Linked DNA regions of Homo sapiens: all the other regions are linked to region 3. The links come from fine-mapping of genetic effects on gene expression. A gene starts in region 3. Each other region holds a variant in brackets. All regions are shown on one strand. Distances are between the middles of the regions. Region 1 has its middle 22 kb from the start of AQP3. Region 2 overlaps LOC105376020 (a long non-coding RNA gene). Region 3 holds the start of AQP3 (aquaporin 3 (Gill blood group)).

The links.
Region 1: its variant is fine-mapped to the expression of AQP3 in lung (GTEx, PIP above 0.99). The same link has a PIP of 0.9 or more in pancreatic islets and subcutaneous fat.
Region 2: its variant is fine-mapped to the expression of AQP3 in whole blood (INTERVAL, PIP above 0.99). The same link has a PIP of 0.9 or more in blood mononuclear cells.

The regions. Positions count from the first base shown.
Region 1 is chr9:33,422,181-33,428,880 of GRCh38, reverse strand. No RefSeq gene overlaps it. Among named protein-coding and RNA genes, the nearest start is that of AQP3, 22 kb to the left of the region's middle. The variant A/C (reference allele first, on the strand shown) is at 3,732.
Region 2 is chr9:33,410,475-33,417,174 of GRCh38, reverse strand. LOC105376020 (a long non-coding RNA gene) reads right to left here. Exons shown (of 3, transcript NR_188543.1): 3 at 6,625-6,700. Among named protein-coding and RNA genes, the nearest start is that of AQP7, 11 kb to the right of the region's middle. RefSeq lists enhancers at 1,539-2,069, 2,070-2,601. The variant T/C (reference allele first, on the strand shown) is at 3,153.
Region 3 is chr9:33,444,623-33,451,322 of GRCh38, reverse strand. AQP3 (aquaporin 3 (Gill blood group)) reads left to right here and starts at 3,730. Exons shown (of 6, transcript NM_004925.5): 1 at 3,730-3,900. The coding sequence starts at 3,793. RefSeq lists a silencer at 3,555-3,744.

The DNA of each region.
Region 1 (6,700 bases), 22 kb after region 3:
TGAGACGGAGTTTTGCTCTGTTGCCCAGGCTGGAATGTAGGGGCATGATCTTGGCTCACTGCAACCTCCACCTCCCGAGTTCAAGAGATTCTCCTGCCTCAGCCTCCCAAGTATCTGGGATTACAGGCGCGTGCCACTACGCCCGGCTAATTTTTGTATTTTTAGTAGAGACAGGGTTTCGCCATATTGCCCATGCTGGTCTCAAACTCCCAACCTCAAATGATCTGCCCACCTTGGCCTACCAAAGTGCTCGGAATACAGGCGTGAACCTCCGTGCCTGGTGGGGAATTTACCTTGTACAACACGTTCAAATTGAATATTAAACATCTCTATTCTTCGAAATCATTTTGGCTCCTCCACCAGAGGCTATTTCTCCCTGGCCCCTTCACCCCACTTAGTACCCCTGCCTCTGGCCACACTGCTGGTTTTCTCTACCCTCCCATCCCCCCCTCCTTACTTTCTCTCTCCTGATTGCTCACTATACTCTAAATTACTTTTTATACAGTGTTTAGCTTAGCCGAAGGGTCACTGGCACAGTCCCCAAGATTTCCTTTAATGAGACCCACTCTCTTCAGGGTTGTGTTTTGTTTTGGTTTGGTTTGTTTTGTTTTTTGAGATGGAGTTTTACTCTTGTTGCCCAGGCTGGAGTGCAATGGCATGATCTCGGCTCACTGCAACCTCTGCCTCCTGGGTTCAAGCGATTCTCCTGCCTCAGCCTCCCGAGTAGCTGGGATTACAGGCATGCGCTACCACGCCCGGCTAATTTTGTATTTTTAGTAGAGATGGGGTTTCTTCACGTTGGTCAGGCTGGTCTCGAACTCCCGACCTAGGGTGATCCGCCCTCCTCGGCCTCCCAAAGTGCTGGGATTACAGGCGTGAGCCACCGCGCCTGGTCTCTTCATGGTTTAAAAAGCAGTTTGCACCAGTCTGGGCAACATAGTGAGACCCTGTCTCTACAGAAAATAAAAAATAATAGCCGGGTGTCGTGGCACACACCTGTAGCCTCAGCTATTCAGGAGGCTGAGGCAGGAGGATCGCTTGAGTCCAGGAGGTCAAGGCTGCAGTGAGCCATGATCACACCCCTGTACTCCAGCCTGGGTGACAGAGTGAGATCCTGTCTCAAAAAAAAAAAAAAAAAGTTTGCCCCACTCTGTTACAAGTAAGTAGCACTGTCCCAATGGTGGCTGCCATTCGCTGCCATTGTTCTTCCAGACTGAGCTTCATGGAGACAGGGACACAGGTCTGGTTGTGCAAGTCAGCCCCTAGTACCTTGCAAGGAGTTTAATAAATATTTGTGGGATGAATGGATGGGATTATTCAGAACCCTCTTGAAGTCCACCTTCCTTTCTCTCTCCCCACAGGGGATAGTTACGAGAAAGAATTAGAGGCCCAGAAACTTCTAATGGGGTCAGCCGTGGAAGAAGCCTGGTGGAATAGACAAAGCTCTGGCTAGAACTTTTGTAGTCTGTAAGGAGAAGGAGGCTAAGTGTTTGTGGCCAACCCCAGATTGGAGTGGATGTGGACCCAGGAGGGAGGAGGCAGAGATGACATTAAGGTTCCATGCCTGGGTCCTTCGATGGGCCTGGGCACAGCCGACACAGGCACCTAGCCTGCCCCCACGGCTGGGGCTCCACCTAGAGATCTTATCCACGGCATGGCTGATACATGGTACTGAGTCATGAGACCTGCGGCCTAGGAAACAGTTCCGCTGTTGAAACAGGCCCAGGGGAGGGGGGCTAGATGGGTGTCTCTGACTTGCTACTGGCACAGACATCATTGCCACCCACACTTCCTGTCACCCCTGGGTCACCTTGATGGTCATCACTCCTCTCTGACCCTGTCACTCATTTGTCACCCTCACCATCATCCCTGCATCACAACCACTGCCCCTTTCTTACCCACGCTGTCACTTGACCCAGTTCCCATCATCGTGTTACCTTCTTGAGCATTGCCACCATCCCTGCCCCTGCCCCATGCCCAAGCCTGTGGCTATCTGGACCAACCCTTTGTCAACCACCTCCAACCCAACCTGTCACTTGCTAGTTCATTCCCATCTCTCCTGTCACCTTGACTGTCCCCACCCGACCCTGTCACCTTGTCACCTTTGCTGCCACAGCCCCAACATAGTCTCCCGCTCTTACCACCTATCTCAGTCCCCATCATCTCTAAGTCTTCTGGACTGTCACCACCCTCCTGCTGCCCCTTTGTTAGTCAACCACTACTGCCCTACCTCTGCCTCCTCCCGATCATCATCCACATCCTCTGATCTCAAGCCCCTCACTGAGGTCCCCTTGGTGTCTTTCTCTTTGACATGCTCAACATGTGCCCACATTTGAGACTTTGCCCCTGCCTTTCCAGCCTCTGGCCTCCTCTGGGCTTCCTGACCTGGATTTGCTACACTTAGCTTTGCCGTCTGCCCTGGCAAGCGATGCTTCATTTTGACCTCTAGGTGGGCTAGGCCTTGGGCCTAGGCACTTATTCCCAGGGTATTAAATAAATACCAGGTAGAAGCCTTTTCCAGGAAGCCCTGAATCTTCTCTGCATGCACTCATGACAACTGGCAGTTGCCTCTGCCCAGCCTGGCCCTAAAATCTCCATTTATTAACATGACAATTATTTTCCTTTTTAGAATTCCCCAATATATCCCCTTTTTTTTGAGACAGAGCCTCACTCTGTCCCCCAGGCTGCAGTGCAATGGCGAGATCTTGGCTCACTGCAACCTCTGCCTCCCGGGTTCAAGTGATTCTCCTGCCTCAGCCTCCCAAGTAGCTGGGATTACAGGTGTGCACCACCATGCCCAGCTAATTTTTTTGTATTTTTAGTAGAGACGGGGTTTCACCATGTTGGCCAGGCTGGTGTCGAACTCCTGACCTCAGGTGATCTGCCCACCTCGGCCTCCCAAAGTGCTGGGATTACAGGTGTGAGCCACCGTACCCCAACTGTGTTTTTGTTTTTTTTTTTTGAGACGGAGCGTCGCTCTGTCACCTAGGCTGGAGTGCAATGGCCCAATCTCAGCTCACTGCAACCTCCACCTCTCAGGTTCAAGTGATTCTCCTGCCTCAGCCTCCCGAGTAGCTGGGATTACAGGCATGCACCACCATGCCCGGCTAATTTTGTATTTTTAGTAGAGACGGGGTATCACCATGTTGGCCAGGCTCGTCTCAAACTCCTGACCTCAGGTGATCTGCCCTCCTTGGCTTCCAAAAGTGCTGGGATTCCAGGCGTGAACCACCATGCCCGACCCCAGTGTAACCTTATAATTCATCAGTGTCCCCTTATCCTGATGTGATAGCCCCCCAGTACCTTGACACTTAACACTTATAACTAACCACCATTCGTGTAATCATGTGTTTAAGGCTGTCTTGCCCACCAGGCAGGACGCTGTGGGAGGGCAGTAACTATGTTTTGGTCACTGCCAAGTCCCCATAGTGCCTGACTTCCAGTAGGAAATCCATAAATGTCTGTTGAGTTAATAAATACCATTTACCAAGTCCTTAATATGTGCTGGGCACTATGCTAAGCACTTGATTAACTTGTTTGTTTCCTGTTTTATGTTTGCGGTCCCTTTCTATTTTATGTACTTTTGAGCATTTCAAAGCTTTTTGGCACGGACACTTCTGACAAAGTTCAAACAGAGAAGTGCATTTTCAGTTACTCATCAGAGTGAGGCCACTTAGAGAAAGGCAGTTAGTTACTCACGGAACAGGGAAAACACTTTCTTGTAATTAGGG[A/C]AAAGGGAATCTGGGCATGACATGTCAACTCTGTATTTCATCTTCTGTTCTCCAAGGGAGTTTCAAGAAACTGAGGGAAGGCCGGGCGCCGTGGCTCACACCTGTAATCCCAGCACTTCAGGAGGCCGAGGCGGGCGGATCATGAGGTCAGGAGATAGAGACCATCCTGGCTAACACAGTGAAACCCTGTCTCTACTAAAAATACAAAAAATTAGCCGGGCGTGGTGGTGGACGCCTGTAGTCCCAGCTACTCAGGAGGCTGAGGCAGGAGAATGGCGTGAACCCAGGAGGTGGAGGTTGCAGTGAGCCAAGATCGGGCCACTGCACTCCAGCCTGGGCGACACAGCGATACTCCGTCTCAAAAAAAAAAAAAAAAGAATCAAAAAAATAAAGAATAAAAAAAAAACATAAACTGAGGGCTAAGAGGATGGGGCTCGGGGTTCCTGAAGAAGACCCCTTCTTCTCACCTCTGGAAAGCAAAAACTAGATTCTTTTTTTTTTTTGTTTGTTTTTTTTTTGTTGTTGTGTTCTAGGAAAACTTTATTCATAAACACAGGCAGCCAATAGTTTGCCAACTCCTATTTTAGAACATGAGTGAGAATCATCAATAAAACTACAAATCTTTGCAACAGTCAGAATAAGAAAATAGTGAATTAAAGACTATTAGCATTTCAGCCATCTAGGACAGTGTTCTTCTCATTATCATACGTAAATATTTGTTTTTTTGTTTTTTTTTTTTTAATTGATCATTCTTGGGTGTTTCTCGCAGAAGGGGATTTGGCAGGGTCATAGGACAATAGTGGAGGGAAGGTCAGCAGACAAACAAGCGAACAAAGGTCTCTGGTTCTCCTAGGCAGAGGACCCCGCTGCCTTCCGCAGTGTTTGTGTCCCTGGGTACTTAAGATTAGGGAGTGGTGATGACTCTCAACGAGCATGCTGCCTTCAAGCATCTGTTCAACAAAGCACATCTTGCACCGCCCTTAATCCATTCAACCCTGAGTGGACACAGCACATGTTTCAGAGAGCACAGGGTTGGGGATAAGGTCACAGATCAACAGGATCCCAAGGCAGAAGAATTTTTCTTAGTACAGAACAAAATGAAAAGTCTCCCATGTCTACTTCTATCCACACAGACCCGGCAACCATCCGATTTCTCAATTTTTTCCCCACCCTTCCCGCCTTTCTATTCCACAAAACCGCCATTGTCATCATGGCCCATCCCCAATGAGCCGCTGGGCACACCTCCCAGACGGGGTCGTGGCCGGGCAGAGGGGCTCCTCACTTCCCAGTAGGGGCGGCCGGGCAGAAGCGCCCCTCACCTCCCGGATGGGGCGGCTGGCCGGGCGGGGGGCTGACCCCCCACCACCCTCCCGGACGGGGCGGCTGGCCAGGCAGAGGGGCTCCTCACTTCCCAGTAGGGGCGGCCGGGCAGAGGCGCCCCTCACCTCCCGGATAGGGCGGCTGGCCGGGCGGGGGGCTGACCCCTCCACCCCCCTCCCGGACGGGGCGGCTGGCCGACCCCCCCCGCCGCCTCCCTCCCGGATGGGGCGGCTGGCCGGGCAGAGGGGCTCCTCACTTCCCAGTAGGGGCGGCCGGGCAGAGGCGCCCCTCACCTCCCGGACGGGGCGGCTGGCCAGGCGGGGGGCTGATCCCCCCACCTCCCTCCCGGACGGGGCGGCTGGCCGGGCGGGGGGCTGACCCCCCCACCTCCCTCCCGGACGGGGCGGCTGGCTGGGCAGAGGGGCTCCTCACCTCCCAGTAGGGGCGGCCGAAAAACTAGATTCTTACCTCATGCCATAAAATCGATGGATTCAAGAGGTAAATATAGGCAGGGTGGTAGTTCACACCTGTAATCCCAGCACTTTGGGAGACCGAGGCGGGCAGATCACTTGAGGTCAGGAATTCAAGACCAGCCTGGCCAACAAGACAAAACCCTGTCTTTACAAAAAAATACGAAAATTAGCCAGGCGTGGTGGCGGATGCCTGTAATCCCAGCTACTCCGGAGGCTGAGGTATGAGAACTGCTTGAATCAGGGAGGCAGAGGTTGCAGTGAGCCAAGATCGTGCCACTGCACTCCAGCCTAGGCAACAAAGACCCTGTCTCAAAAAAAAAAAGGTAAATATATAAAGGATTAAAAATTAAAACAAACCTGGATATTTCTCATATTCCTTCCTCAGCTATTTCATCTCTGAGTATGATCCTTGGGAAAGTAATTGCAGAGACAGACAAAGCCTTTGCCCAAAGATCATTCCAATGTTATTTATAATATTGAAACACTGAAATACAAATGTATATTTATGAATAAAAAAATAAAAAATTTAAAAGTTGGAAACAAACTACTCAGTGACAGTGACAGAAGGTAGTTAAATAAAGTATGGTTTGTCTCTTAGTTATTAAAATAATACTTCTGGAGTTGATAATCTATCATCATGGCATTAGCTAAAAAGGGCATTATACCAACAGGCTTATGGGAAATTATTTTCAATTATGTCAGTAGAGCACTTAGAAAGATTAATGGATGAAAAGAAGTGAAAGCATTAATAGGCATTATGTTATTTCTGAATTGTGAGCAATTTGTTTTTACTTGTAGTTTTCGCATTTTCTTTGGTAGGCATTATTACATTTAGAATAAAAGCTATGCATTTATAATAAAAAAAAGAGAGGCAAAAATGGCCAGGTGCGGTGGCTCACACCTGTAATCCCAGCACTTTAGGAGGCCAAGGCGGGTGGGTCACCTAAGGTTGGAAGTTCGAGACCAGCCTGGCCAACATGGTGAAACCTCGTCTCTACTAAAATTACAAAAATTAGCCAGGCATGGTGGCATGTGACTGTAATCCCAGCTCCTCAGGGGGCTGAGGCAGAAAAATTGCTTGAACCCAGGAGGTGGAGGCTGAAGTGAACTGAGATCACACCACTGCACTCCAGCCTTGGCGACAGCGAGGGGCTGGGCGTGGTAGCTCATGCCTGT
Region 2 (6,700 bases), 34 kb after region 3:
CACCCTCAAATGGTCCTTGCTCTGAAAGGGGTAGGAGGGATGCAGAATATAGCACCTGTGTGTTCACCTATATGGGCGCAATGCTGTGTTACACACCTGGGTCCAAGATGTGTACCCGTGTCTGACTGAGCATACATAGGGAGTCCCCAGGCACACAGCCCCCTAGACTGTGTGCCACAGGTGCGAAGGGGGCATGTGGCATGGGCGGAGGTAGTGTGGATGAACACACAGCACTTCCCAGAGCACACGCACATGTGACAGGTGTCTTCCTGAAAAGAAGGATTGCAGCTTCAGAGCCTGTCGAGCCATAAGAAGCGGAGGTCTGAGAGGTGGGAAGGGCTCTCTAATGACAGCTCATCTTCCCCAAGAAGGACTTGGCTGGATCAGCTGGCAGAGCTGGGCACCCTAAGCCTGTGGTGACGGCAGCAGCTTCCCTAACCTTATCCCTAAGCTCCCGGCTGCAGGCCAGGGTGGTTCCACTGTCCTAACCCTGAGACGGCATTTACACCCCACAGGCCACACAGGCAGGCTGGGAGCAGTGAGTGGCAGGTGGGCACTCAGTCATTGCTTTCTCTTACCCCCTCTGCAGGCAGGAGGGACGTGAGGGTCCTGGCTGCGTCTGGTCTGAGGGGCTGTGGGGTGAGCACGTCAGCCCCAGGTTGCGCATGCCCCTGGTTTGTGTGGCACTGTATGCACACTCCACAACTTGGTGTGTTGGCCCCTGCCCCGGCACCTGGGGCCTGGTGCTGCCTTCCCATCACACTCCATGATCTGAGAGATGCTTGAAGAGGGCCAAAGAGTCTGGACTAGGAGCCAGGAAGCTCTCACTTGGTGACTTTGGAGATGTCCCTTTACCATGTCTGGGGCTCAATTTGTAGAGGGGCAATAATCCCTGTGGGGTCACCTTGCCAGGCTGCTGGGTAACAGATTCTCATGGAGGCGCACGGAAAGTCAGGAAAGCTCGGTCCTGGAGGCTTCCTATGGGGGATGGTGGTGTCCCCTGTGTTGCTCGGTTGAAGGACTAGGGGCTGAAATCAGATCGCAGCCTCCAGGGAACTTGCACTGCCCCACAGAGGGGTTCAGACCTCCTGGAGATGTGAGGCATTAGAGTTCTGGGGCTGAGCTTCCAAATAAACTTCAAAACAGTGATGTGACAGGCCAAGACCTGCTCTCAGTGAGGCTGGAAAAATCCTTCCACCCATCCCTGCCCATGGGCCCCGACCCTGCTGCTGGAGTGAGCTGCCATGAACTCCAGCCTGAGCCCGGGAACCAGCTCAGATCTTACCCTGTCTCTCATTTGCCTCCGTCCCCACCCCCAGCCTGCTGCCTCTCAGGTTCACACTTCCTGGGCTCAGAGTTTCATCCTGAGGCTGTTGGCTCAGCCAGAGCAAACAGAGACAGCACTAAAGTCAACAAAACCAGAGAGCAAGCAGCGCAGGTGACGTGGAAAAGAAAACTTGGAAGCCACAACAAAGGCATGTGGGCTGGGCCGGGTGGAGCCCTTGAGGGGACTGGAGTTGGGGACGCACGGGTGACACCTCCAGTGGACTCAGGCTAAAGGAGTCAGCTTCGGCTGCCAGCAGGGGGTGCTAGAGCCAGTCTCATGGGTGCTGAAAACAGGATGAGGTTGGGAGTCTGGGGGTTAAGGTTCCACCTTACCCAAACCCATCTCACTGAGGCTCTTGGCTGGGTTGCCTCAGCTGCTGTGAAAGGAGTGAGAGGCTCAACTAGGGGCCAGGGTTGTGGGTAGGGGCGTGCAGGGCGGGAGTAGACAGGCTGGAACAGGAGAAAGGAGGAGCTCCCGGCTCACTGCCCCACCCCAGGTGCTTCCCCCGCACCCCCTCGCCCAGGGCTCAAGGGCTTGGAGCCGTGAATTCCTGGGGATGCCCAGGACGCCCCCACAGGCAGAGTCACCTGACAAACTGTTTCTCTCCCACTCAGTGGGGGAAAGCTCCATTCTCTCAACATTTATTGTGCATCTGCTATGTTCCCAGTGTAGGAGAAATCGTCTGGGAATCAAATGGCCCCACCCGTCACGGGCTCAGCAAGCCAGTTGTCCCCAGGAGGCAGCCTGCCCAAGGCCCTGTCATGCCTGGAACCCCCACCCGCTCAGTGAGTCGGCTGCCTGTTAACTGGGCTGGCAATTGCAGGGTGCCTGGGGCAGCCTGGCCCCTAGACTGAGGGGGTGACCAAGGGTTCAAGTCCAGAAAGCTAAGCCACTAGGCTGCAATGGCAAGGGCTGGGAGACCAGACACACCATTGGAGCGGCTGAAGAGGAAGGTGGATGTCCCTGAGCATTGCTCTTGCTGTCTGCAGAATGAGCATATTATACTCTACTCCCAGCACTTCTAGTTTGGCCCTGGCATCAGGCAAGAATCTGTTAGGGCAGGAGAAGGACAGGAGGTGTGGAGTACAGAGTTTCCCTCCCTCAGATGGGCTTCCTACCCACCACCCAGAGAGTTTACTCTACCAGGCCCTTGCCATGCCCCCTGCCCACTCAGTCCATTCTCCCAACAACCCTGCAAGATAAGGATTCATATCTTCATTTTACAGATGAAGAAGCCCAGTTAAATTTCTTGCTTTAAGTCACCCAATGCTGATTAAGAAGCTGAGCTGGATTCAAGTTCAGGTCTGTCTGTCTAAAAAGCCTGAGCTATAAACAACTCACACCCAGGTGGGGCCCTGAGTAGGGAAACTTCAAACCAGCCTCAAACTCAGGCTCCTGGCCAGGAGGTCTCTGGGTTTTTCCACTGCTCCTTCCGGCCACCACTTCAGTCTCTCCTTCCTCCTTCTCATGATGCGTCCCTTATCCTGAGCCTCCTCCCTGCTCCGATTAACCTGGTACCTGAGTCTCTACCATTTTTAGACTCTTTCTTTCCTGTGGGTTAGGAAATTGCTGCTTGGAGCTTTTCCTTTAAAATGCTTTACTGTGGAAAGATTATGAAATGGGTTTAGGCAGAAATCAAAGAATAAAAGCAGAAGGCGAAGTACTGATGCGGGGGACGGGGGGAATGTGACAATGGAGGGGTCAGGCTGTCACTCCCTGAAGCCACTGAGCAGTTGGCATCACTGAGCATGGGCAGCTAGACATGACGTGTCTCCTGATGGGATGAAATAGGAAGCATGCAGCACCTCCACAGAGGACCCGCTGC[T/C]CCAGCCCACATGCAAGACTGAACCTAAATAAAATCACACCAGACCGGGCGCGGTGGCTCGTGCCTGTAGTCCCAGCACTTTGGATGGCCGAGGTGGGTGGGTTGCTTGAGCCCAGGAGTTCGAGACCAGCCTGGGTACATGGCGAGACCCCATCTCTACAAAAAATACAAAAATTAGCGTGGCATGGTGGCATGCGCCTGTCGTCCCAGCTGAGAGAATCACTTGAACCCGGGAAGTCAAGGCTGCAGTGAGCAACATTCACGCCACTGCATTGCAGCCTGGGCAACAGAGCGAGACTGTCTCAAAAAAATAAACAAAGCCAGGCAGGGTGTGTTGGCTCACGCCTGTAATCCCAGCACTTTGGGAGGCCAAGACGGGCGGATCATGAGGTCAGGAGATCGAGACCATCCTGGCTAACACGGTGAAACCCTGTCTCTACTAAAAATACAAAAAAATTAGCCAGGCATGGCGGTGGGTGCCTGTAGTCCCAGCTACTCAGGAGGCTGAGGCAGGAGAGTGGCGTGAACCCGGGAGGCAGAGCTTGCAGTGAGCTGAGATCACACCACTGCACTCCAGCCTGGGTGACAGAGTGAGACGCTGTCTCAAAATAAATAAATAAATAAAATTAATAAAAAATAAATAAACCATACACCATTAGAGCTCTTTTTTTTTTTTTTTTTTTTTTTTGAGACAGAGTCTTGATCTGCCACCCAGGCTGGAGTGCAGTGGCACAATCTTGGCTCACTGCAACTTCTGCCTCCCAGGTTCAAGCAATTCTTGTGACTCAGCCTCCTGAGTAGCTGGGACTACTCAGGCACCCACCACCCCACCTGGCTAATTTTTTTGTATTTTTAGTAGAGACGGGGTTTCACCGTGTTGGCCAGGTTGGTCTCGAACTCCTGACCTCAGGTGATCCTCTCGCCTCAGCTTCCCAAAGTGCTGGGATTACAGGAGTGAGCCACCACACCTGGCCACTTTTTTTTGTTTTTGAGGCAGAGTCTTGTTCTGTTGCCCAGGCTGGAGTGCAGTGGTGCAATCTTCGCTCACTGCAATCTCTGCCACCTGGGTTCAAGTGATTCTCCTGCCTCAGCTTCCCCAGTGGCTAGGACTACAGGCGTGCACCACCACGCCCAGTTAATTTTTGTATTTTTAATAGAGACGGAGTTTCATCATGTTAGCCAGGCTGGTCTCAAACTCCTGACCTCAGACGATCCTCCTGCCTTGGTTTCCTAAAGTGCTGGGATTACAGGTGTGAGCCACTGCGCCCAGCCCAGAGCTGACTTCTCATATTTTTTTTTTATTTCTTTCTCTTTTTTTTTTTCTTTTTTTTTTGAGACAGGGACTTGCTCAATGGCACAGACATGGCTCACTGCAGCCTTGACTTCCCAGGTTCAAGTGATCCTGCTGCCTCAGGCTCCTGAGTAGCTGGGACTACAGGTGCATGCCACCATGCCTGGCTAATTTTTTTCCTTTGAGATGGAGTCTCGCTCTGTCGCCCAGGCTGGAGTGCAGTGGTGTGATCTTGGCTCACTGCAAGCTCCGCCTCCCGGGTTCACGCCATTCTCCTGCCTCAGCCTCCTGAGTAGCTGGGACTACAGGCGCCCACCACCACGCCCAGCTAATTTTTTGTATTTTTAGTGGAGATGGGGTTTCACCATGTTAGCCAGGATGGTCTCGATCTCCTGACCTCATGATCCGCCTGCCCCGGCCTCCCAAAGTGCTGGGATTACAGGTGTGAGCCACTGCGCCTGGCAATTTTCGTGTTTTCTGTAGAGATTGGAATTCTCCATGTTGCCCAGGCTGGCATTGAACTCCTGGGCTCTAATGATCCACTTGCCTTGGCCTCCCACAGTGCTGGAATTAGGGGTGTGGGCCACTGTGCCCAGCCACTTACTCAAAGAAATACAGGGGATGACGGAAAAGCTGAATGACACTACAAAGAAAAAACACAGACAAATCTAGAATGTGGGACTCTTACAGGACTACATTTATTCAGCAAGTCAATGACATGAAAAAATAATGATGGAGAAAGGGGAATTCCTCTTGTTTAAGAGAACATTTAACCCAACGTAATGTGTGACCTTGTTTGGATCCTGATGCAAACAATCCAACAAATCAATGCAAAAAGACACTTTGAAACAATTCCAAGTATTTGATCATTCTATGGAATTGTATATTTTGTCAGGTATGGCACTGATTATTTAAGAAAATGTTCCTATATTTTAGAGGGAACACTGAAGAATGTAGGAATGAAATGACAGAGTAGCTGGAATTTAACATATTTCAGAAAAATAAAAATAAAATAAAATAGGCAGTTTGAGACCAGCCTGGCCAACATGGTGAAACCCCATCTCTACTAAAAATACAAAAATTAGCCGGGCCTGGTGGTGGGTGCCTGTAATTCCAGCTACTTGGGAGGCTGAGGCACAAGAATCTCTTGAACCTGGGAGGTGGAGGATGCAGTGAGCTGAGATCGCTCCATTGCACTCCAGCCTGGGCAACAGAGCGAGACTCCGTCTCAAAAAGGGGAAAAAAATGGCTGTAAAATGGAGAATGAGTGAGGGTGATGCAGGAGAGGTGAGCCCCAAAGTGGGGCTTGGCCTGCGAGGGTTCTCGGCTTTGCCTCTCAAGGGCAATGCAGAGAGAAGTAGAAGAAAACAGCTTTATTGAAGCGGCAGTGTTACAGCTCCATGACTGCCCCTGCACAGCAGGGCTATACAGAGGCGGAGAGCAGCAGCCCAGGGCAGTTTTGCAGTTATATTTATACCCACTTTTAATTGTATGCAGATTAAGAGGCAATTTATGCAGAAATTCCTAGGGAAGGGGTGGTAACTTTTGGGCCATTGGGTCATTGCCATGGAAAGGGGTGATAACTCCCAGGTGTTGAGATGGCAATGATAAATTAACATGGCACATTGGGGCGCATGTCTGATTAGAAAGCTGCTTCCAGCCCTGTTTTAGCTAGTCCTCAATCTGGTCCAGTGTCCAAGCCCCACCTCTGGAGTCAAGTCCCGCCTCCTACTTCAAGGGGGATGCAGACCGGGAGACCCGTGGAGAGGCTCTTGGAGATTAGATTTGGGGCTGATTGAGGGGGCCACGAGAGAGGGAGTAGTTGAGTGACTCCTGGAGGGAAAGCTTCAGAGATGTGGTGGGGAGGAGCATTCCTTGGGCTAGGCCCTTGGGAAGGGGGCAGACTGTGGGGAGGTGAGGTTGGGTTGGGGCAGGTGAAGGTAATGTGCTTGTTACACATACGAGATAACAAGAGAGGAGGCTGGACCACTTGTTCTTGAGCTCCGGGCTGGAGATGGAGGCTGGGGAGGTGGCAGCATTTGCGTGGGGGAAGAGGATGTGAGAGCCATGCAGGGCTGCCTTCTCCATGACGCACAGGAGGCACAGGACCCATGAGAATGTTCAATCTAAGGGCCCACAAAATGTTTTAGTTTGCATCCAAATAAGAAAAAGAAGAACTTGTAGGCTGAAGAAAATGTTTTAATATTGATACATCAGGGCCGGCGTGGTGGCTCACACCTATAATTCCACTTATTTG
Region 3 (6,700 bases):
ATGCCCGGCCTCCAGGTTGCTTTTATAAGGGAAGAGGAAAAGAAATAAAAAATAGAAGTGTGTGTAGTGTCTGCTGGTGAAAGAGCTTCCCCTGTTTTTCTCCCCTGCTCTGGTTCCCAGGCTAGATTTGGATGCCAGCAGACCCAGGATGGGACAGGGTGACAATGGGGTGTTGTGGGCTGGGTTTCCCTATTTTCTTTCGGTGTTGAGGAGTCCCTTGCCAGTTTCTGCCCTGTGCTGCCTTTGCAGCTCCACTTGAGGCAGGGATGGGCTGGATGCATATTATAGGGTGGGAGGAAAAGGGGGCAGCATGGCAGGGGTGCTCTACCACTCCCATAGCCTGTGATCTGGGCCCTGGCACCAGGAGTCTATGGTTCTGTCTTGAGTCACAGGCTGGCAGTGGGGCCAGAGGGCAGGTACTCAGTGATGGCTCCCTGATTCACCACGGGGCCTCCCAGCCTATAGAGGCCTGGAGGGTAGGGTGCATCTTTCTGGGTCAAGGGTCATTAGAGTCCTCATGTGGGGGTTCTATATATGTGTGAGCCCATGGCGAGGCTCTCATGTGAATGGGATCCCTGATCATGGGAGCAGAGCTCAGTGTCTATAGGCAAGTGTGTGACTGCAAACCACAGGGTGTGTGTGTGTGTCTGTGTGTTTGTGTGTGTGTATGCGCAAGCACCTGCATGTATGTGAATCTACTTCATGTGTATGCTAAACCCATCTCTTTGGGCATGAACCACCTCTGGGACTGGGAGCCCTTATTTCCTTTCTTTTCTTTTCTTTTTTAACATGCCTATCTAGGCCAGGTACGGTGAATCATGCCTGTAATCCCAGCACTTTGGGAGGCCGAGACGGGTGGATCACCTGAGGTCAGGAGTTCGAGACCAGCCTGGCCAACGTGGTGAAACCCCGTCTCTACTAAAAAAAACAAAAAACAAAAAACAAAAAAATTGGCTGGACATGGTGGTGCATGCCTGTAATCCCAGCTACTCGGGAAGCTGAAGCAGGAGAATCGCTTGAACCCAGGTGGGGTGATCTTGGCTCACTGCAACCTCTGCCTCCTGGGTTCAAGTGATCCTCCTGTCTCAGCCTCCCGAGTAGCTGGGATTACAGGCATGTGGCAGAGGTGGTTGATGCCCAAAGAGATGGGTTTAGCAATACTCATAATCCTACAATCCAAGCACTCTAGGAGGCCAAGGTGGGCAAATTGCTTGAGCTCGGGAGTTCCAGACCAGCCTGGCCAACATGGCGAAACCCCTTCTCTACAAACAATACAAAAATTAGCCGGGCATCGTGATGCATGCCTGTAGTCCCAGCTATTTGAGAGGCTGAGGTGGGAGGATTGTTTGATCCCATGAGCTAGAGGCTGGAGTGAGTCATCATCCATGTTTTTAAGAGCTTGTTTAGCTTCTTCTGCTACCTCTCCTGACACAACCTGTCCACTTGAAGGGTCCATGCCTATCTGTCCTGAAATGTCAATGGTCCTGTCACCTAACATAGTTTGACTGTAGGTCCCAGTGGCCCCTGGGGCTTTCTTGGTGCTGATCACATTTCTGATCAAGGACGACAGGACTAACCCTTCTCTCTTTTGGTCCCTCTGGGAGAAGAACCTCTGCACTAGCCCTGCTCGCTTCTCAATGAACCGTGGGAGCCCTTTTTTTTTTTTTTTTTTTTGAGATGGAGTTTGGCTCTTGTTGCCCAGGCTGGAGTGCAATGGCATGATCTCAGGTCACTGCAACTTCCGCCTCCTGGGTTCAAGTGATTCTCCTGCCTCAGCCTCCCGAACAGCTGAGATTACAGGCACCCGCCATCACGCCCGGCTAATTTTTGGTATTTTTAGTAGAGACAGGGTTTCACCATGTTGGTCAGTGTGGTCTTGAACTCCTGACCTCAGGTGATCTGCCCGCCTCGGCCTCCCAAAGTGCTGGGATTATAGGCGTGAGCCACCACGCCCAGCCGGGGGCCCTTATTTCTCATATTCGTCCCTCAAGGGACAAGTCCTCAGGGTCATTAGCCCACCTGGATTAAGTCCCTCTGGAAAATGATTTCTTTGATCTCCTCTGGCAATGCTGCCATAGAAGCTCAGCCTAAGGGCATGTTGTTTGCTCCCAGGCCACCAGATGTTTCCTTGTTATTAAAAGCAGCATAGAGGGCAAGGTTGCACTTCGGGAGGCCGAGGTGGGAGGATCGTTTAAAGCCAGGAGTTTGAGACTAACCTGGGCAACATAGCAAGACCTCATTTTTACAACAGATTTTTAAAAATTAGCTGAGTGTCATGGTGGCACATAGTCCCTATAGTCCCATCCATTCTGGAGGCTGAGGTGGGAGGATCACTTGGGCCCAGGAGTTCGAGGCTACAGTGAGCTGTGATTGCACCACAGCCTGGGTGATGGAGCAAGACCCTACTCTTTAAAAAGAGAGAGAGGGCAAGGTTGTCCCATGATCCCCCTCAGATAGGGCTGACTCCCCCATAATTAAGTTTGCTTAAAGAGGCAGACTTGCTGGGCTCAGTGGCTCACGCCTGTAATCCCAGCACTTTGGGAGGCTGAGGCGGGTGGATAACTTGTGGTCAGGAGTTCGAAATCAGCCTGGTCAACATGGTGAATCCCCATCTCCACTAAAAAAACAAAAATTAGCTGGGCATGGTGGTGTGCACCTGTAATCCCAGCTAATCGGGAGGCTGAAGCAGGAGAATCACTTGAACCTGGGAGGTGGAGGTTGCAGGGAGCCGAGATCACGCCATTGCACTCCACCTAGGCGACAGAGAGAGACTCCGTCTAAAAAAAAAAAAGAGACAGACTCTTCCTTGGCTGGGGGTAAGTCAGATGGGAGAGGAGAGGGTTAAAAACAGCTGGGACTCAGCCTGCTGGCAAACATGTGGCATGTGGCATGTCGGGGCAACTGCAGCTCAGCCTCTGGAGCCATGTGAGCAATGCACGCAGGTACACGTGTGACAAGCTAGGTCACCTAGCCATGTTCAACAGGCATGTGCACAGCCACGAGGAATGCCCAGCCGTACAATTAGGCACACAGGACATCCGCCATGTGTAGACACAGCTGTGGACATAGCTGGCCAGGACATGCGACACACGACGTGCTCATAGCACAGGGAGAAGGGCCCATGAAGTCTGGTTGGAACTCAGCACGTGTGTCTGTGTGCCCACCTGAGTCTGGACTGCTGCCCCTCTGACACTAGCTGTCCCCTTGAAGGGTCGGTGCCTTATCTGTCCTGACAGAAGAGACAGTGTTGCTTCTCACTTGGGGCTCGCAGCCTCCTCCTCCTGCCTCGAACTGAGGATCTGTTGGGTCCAGTCATCCTGGAGAGATGCGGCCAGTTTCTTTCTGACAGGTCTCCTCCTGCCCGCAAGGAAGTGGGGTGATCACAGGGCGCAGGTGGTCTCTATGACAGCTGCATCCTCTCCAGCCATGGCCCTGAACCCTGCCTATAATCCCACCATTGGCTCTCAGATCTGCCTAAGCCTCTCAGCCCCCTTGACGTCCCCTCCCTTAAGCGCCCTCCGAAGGCCACCCGTCCCTCAAAGCTCCTCACACTCCATGCCCGCAGCTCCCTCCACCCGGCGTCCGCACCAGCCTCCCAGCCGAGGTGGGGCGGGGGCGAGGGGGCGCGCACTCCTCGGCGCTCCGGGACTGCAGGGCGGGGCTGCAGGGCGGGCGGGGCCCGTGTCTCCAGCGCTCCTATAAAGGGAGCCACCAGCGCTGGAGGCCGCTGCTCGCTGCGCCACCGCCTCCCGCCACCCCTGCCCGCCCGACAGCGCCGCCGCCTGCCCCGCCATGGGTCGACAGAAGGAGCTGGTGTCCCGCTGCGGGGAGATGCTCCACATCCGCTACCGGCTGCTCCGACAGGCGCTGGCCGAGTGCCTGGGGACCCTCATCCTGGTGGTGAGTGGAGGGAGCCGGGGAAGCCCTTCTCTCTCCAGCCCTTGCACTCCCCAAACTCTCACTTCCCCGAAGGGGCTGTGTTTTCCAAGGTAGCCTGGACCCACCTCCCCAGCTGTGACCCCCACGCTTAACCGCGGAGGATCAAGCTGACTTCCAAAGTCCTCTTCCCCACGGTTCTAACCCCCTCTCTGACAGCTCCGACTCTTGCCAGAATGACAGCTGTTACTCCCCAGTGATAGTGCCGATCGTTTACCCTCCCACAAGTGACTCAGCCAACAGGCTGGGGGCAGCGGTCACGCTTGCAGTCTGGGACAGCCAGCCACTTCCCCTGCCTCCCACACCCCTCCAGATTCCCAGAATCCCAGCCCCCAGATGTAGGGGAGGGGGCGGAGGCAAATGAGCCATTATTAGGTTATTTGGGTCCTGGGTGTCTGGCCTCTAATGAATAATTAAGCCTCAAAAAGTCCAAAGGTTGAAGTGAGTGAGGACAGTTTGCACGAGTGGGGGCAGAGGGTGCAGGCCACATGGGCTGCGAACAGCGAAGTGGGAAGGGAGGCAGATTCTGACGGTAGAAGGGTGGGAGGAAGCTAGGCCCAGGCACAGAGGACGCGTGTCTAAAGTTGCTCACCTGGTGCTCAGCGACTCCCAGGCCCTGTCTGTTATCCAGACAGATGCTGTCAGCGTCTGTGCAGAAGACGACAAGCATTCTGGTTACTCCCTGGCCTCTTGGTTACTCTGTGGGTTCTCTGAGTGAGCATTTCCCTGCCTGAGTTACTCCTCAGTCCTAGTTACTCCTTGGTCACACCAGTTTCACCCTGGTTTTGTTCTGAGTGACTCTGTTTGCACTTCTTAGGTCTGGCAGACCCACCAGTTATGTTCTATTTCCTGTCCCAGTTACTCTGATTTTTCAGCCGCTCATGTGGTTACACCTGTTTTCCTCTGTGTTCAGTTGCTACATTGCAGTGAGTGGGTTACTCCGTTCCTGCCCCAGCCCTGGGTAGTACAGACCAGCTGGCCCACTGTGGACTAGGAAGCCTAACTAAGGGCAAGTAGGGATCCCCAAATGGTTGAGGATCAGGATCTATGGGCAGAGGAGGGCTGAAACCCACTTCTGGCTTCCAAGAATAGGAAGTGGGGAAGCCACAGGGGGCATTTTATCCACAGCCTCCCATAAGATTAGTCGTCCTATCAGCCAGCCCTAGCCCCTCTCTCCTGTGCCAAGAAGGCAATAGGAGGTGGCCTTTATCACTCTCCTGCCTCGGAGCCCTCACTCCTATCGGAGTCCTGAGTCCAGCCACCTGTTTTAGAGCAGCCAGGCTAGGGGAGGATGATGTCTTCTATTTTCCTAGAGGGGCCTCCTCATTCCCTCCCAAGTCTCAGTTCACTCTCTCACAAAGGAGCCGTTAGTCCTCCCACTGAGCCCCAGGATCATCAGGCTTATCCCAGACCACAAAAGAAGAGTGTTAAATTTTAGGGGAAGGGTTGCAGACTCAGATGGATGTGAGGTATTGGATATCAGTGAGAAGCAGAACTTCAAGGACTGCATGAACTGGAGGGGCAGGCCTGGGGATCCCTTTGTAGTGGGTGAGTGCCTGCCTGCCTACCTGCGTGTTGGGAGCCTAGGCCTGCAGTGGCAGAATCAGGGTTGGCTTTGGGGTGAGGAAAGCCCCTTTCTCTGAGATACCTGGTGTGAGGGCAGGGGGCGGTGCTGGCCGAGAACTCAGGGCAGGGGTTGGGGGAGGAAGAGGAAGATTAGCCCCAAGGTGGTGGAACTGGCTCTGACAGCTCCTCCCTCCAAGGCGTCCTGGGATGGAGCCAGGTCTGAGCCTTTGGCAGGCAAGGAGCTGCTGCCAGGGCCTCCCAAGCAGGGCAGGGCGCCTCAGACCCTCACGTGCCTGTCTCCCACCACCCCTCCTCACACATACACCTGCAATCTCTGATCTTTGCTCTCACCTGCCTGCACACCTTTGCCCCATGTCATTGCCGCTGGCTTCTCCGTTATCTCTTGGTCTTTCTGGGATGATAATCAAAATGCTTAACTATCCAGTACAACAGGCACTGACCCGTCAGAATAAACAAGGTCTGTAGCACAGGTCCTGGAAACTGCCTGCTCTGTGGGCATAAAACCTTTAGTTATGGGCAGGTGGGAGAGGAGACCAGGGCAAGGCATTGGAGCAGCTTTGAGGGACACTCAGGGGGCTCAGGGCAACAATGCTTTACAGCTGCTGCAGAAGTATTTTCAGGCTTGAACAAGGGGAACAGACATAGTACGTTCTTTTTCTTTTTTAAATAGAGACAAAGTCTCACTATGTTGCCCAGGCTGTTCTCAAACTCCTGGGTTCAAGATCCTCCCATCTCAGCCTCCAAAGTGCTGGGATTACAGGTGTGAGCCACCACAGCTGGCTCCAGTATGTTCTATATTTGTAGAACACCAGGGCTCTTAGTCTCTTTTAGTTCCCCCATTTTTGGCAGAAAGTTTAGAACCGATCTCCCCATTTCTACAGCCCTGGGTCCCGGGCTGGGGATAGTGAGAGGAGCCACACAGATCCCTGTCTGTAGGACCTCCAAATCTGAGTGGGGAATCTGGACCCCTGAGAGCAGAGAGGTCATGGGTGGAGAGAGGAGACGCTGGGACAGGGACAGGTAAAGGAAGGGGAGGTTGTTGAGGGGGACATGGTGAAGGCTGGGGCTCTGGCATCCTGGACTCAGGAGAAGTGGATTCAACCTCACTTCTGGTCTCCTCCCTATTTATTTATGCCGCCCATTGCCACCACTACCACCACCACATGAGCTTTTCTTT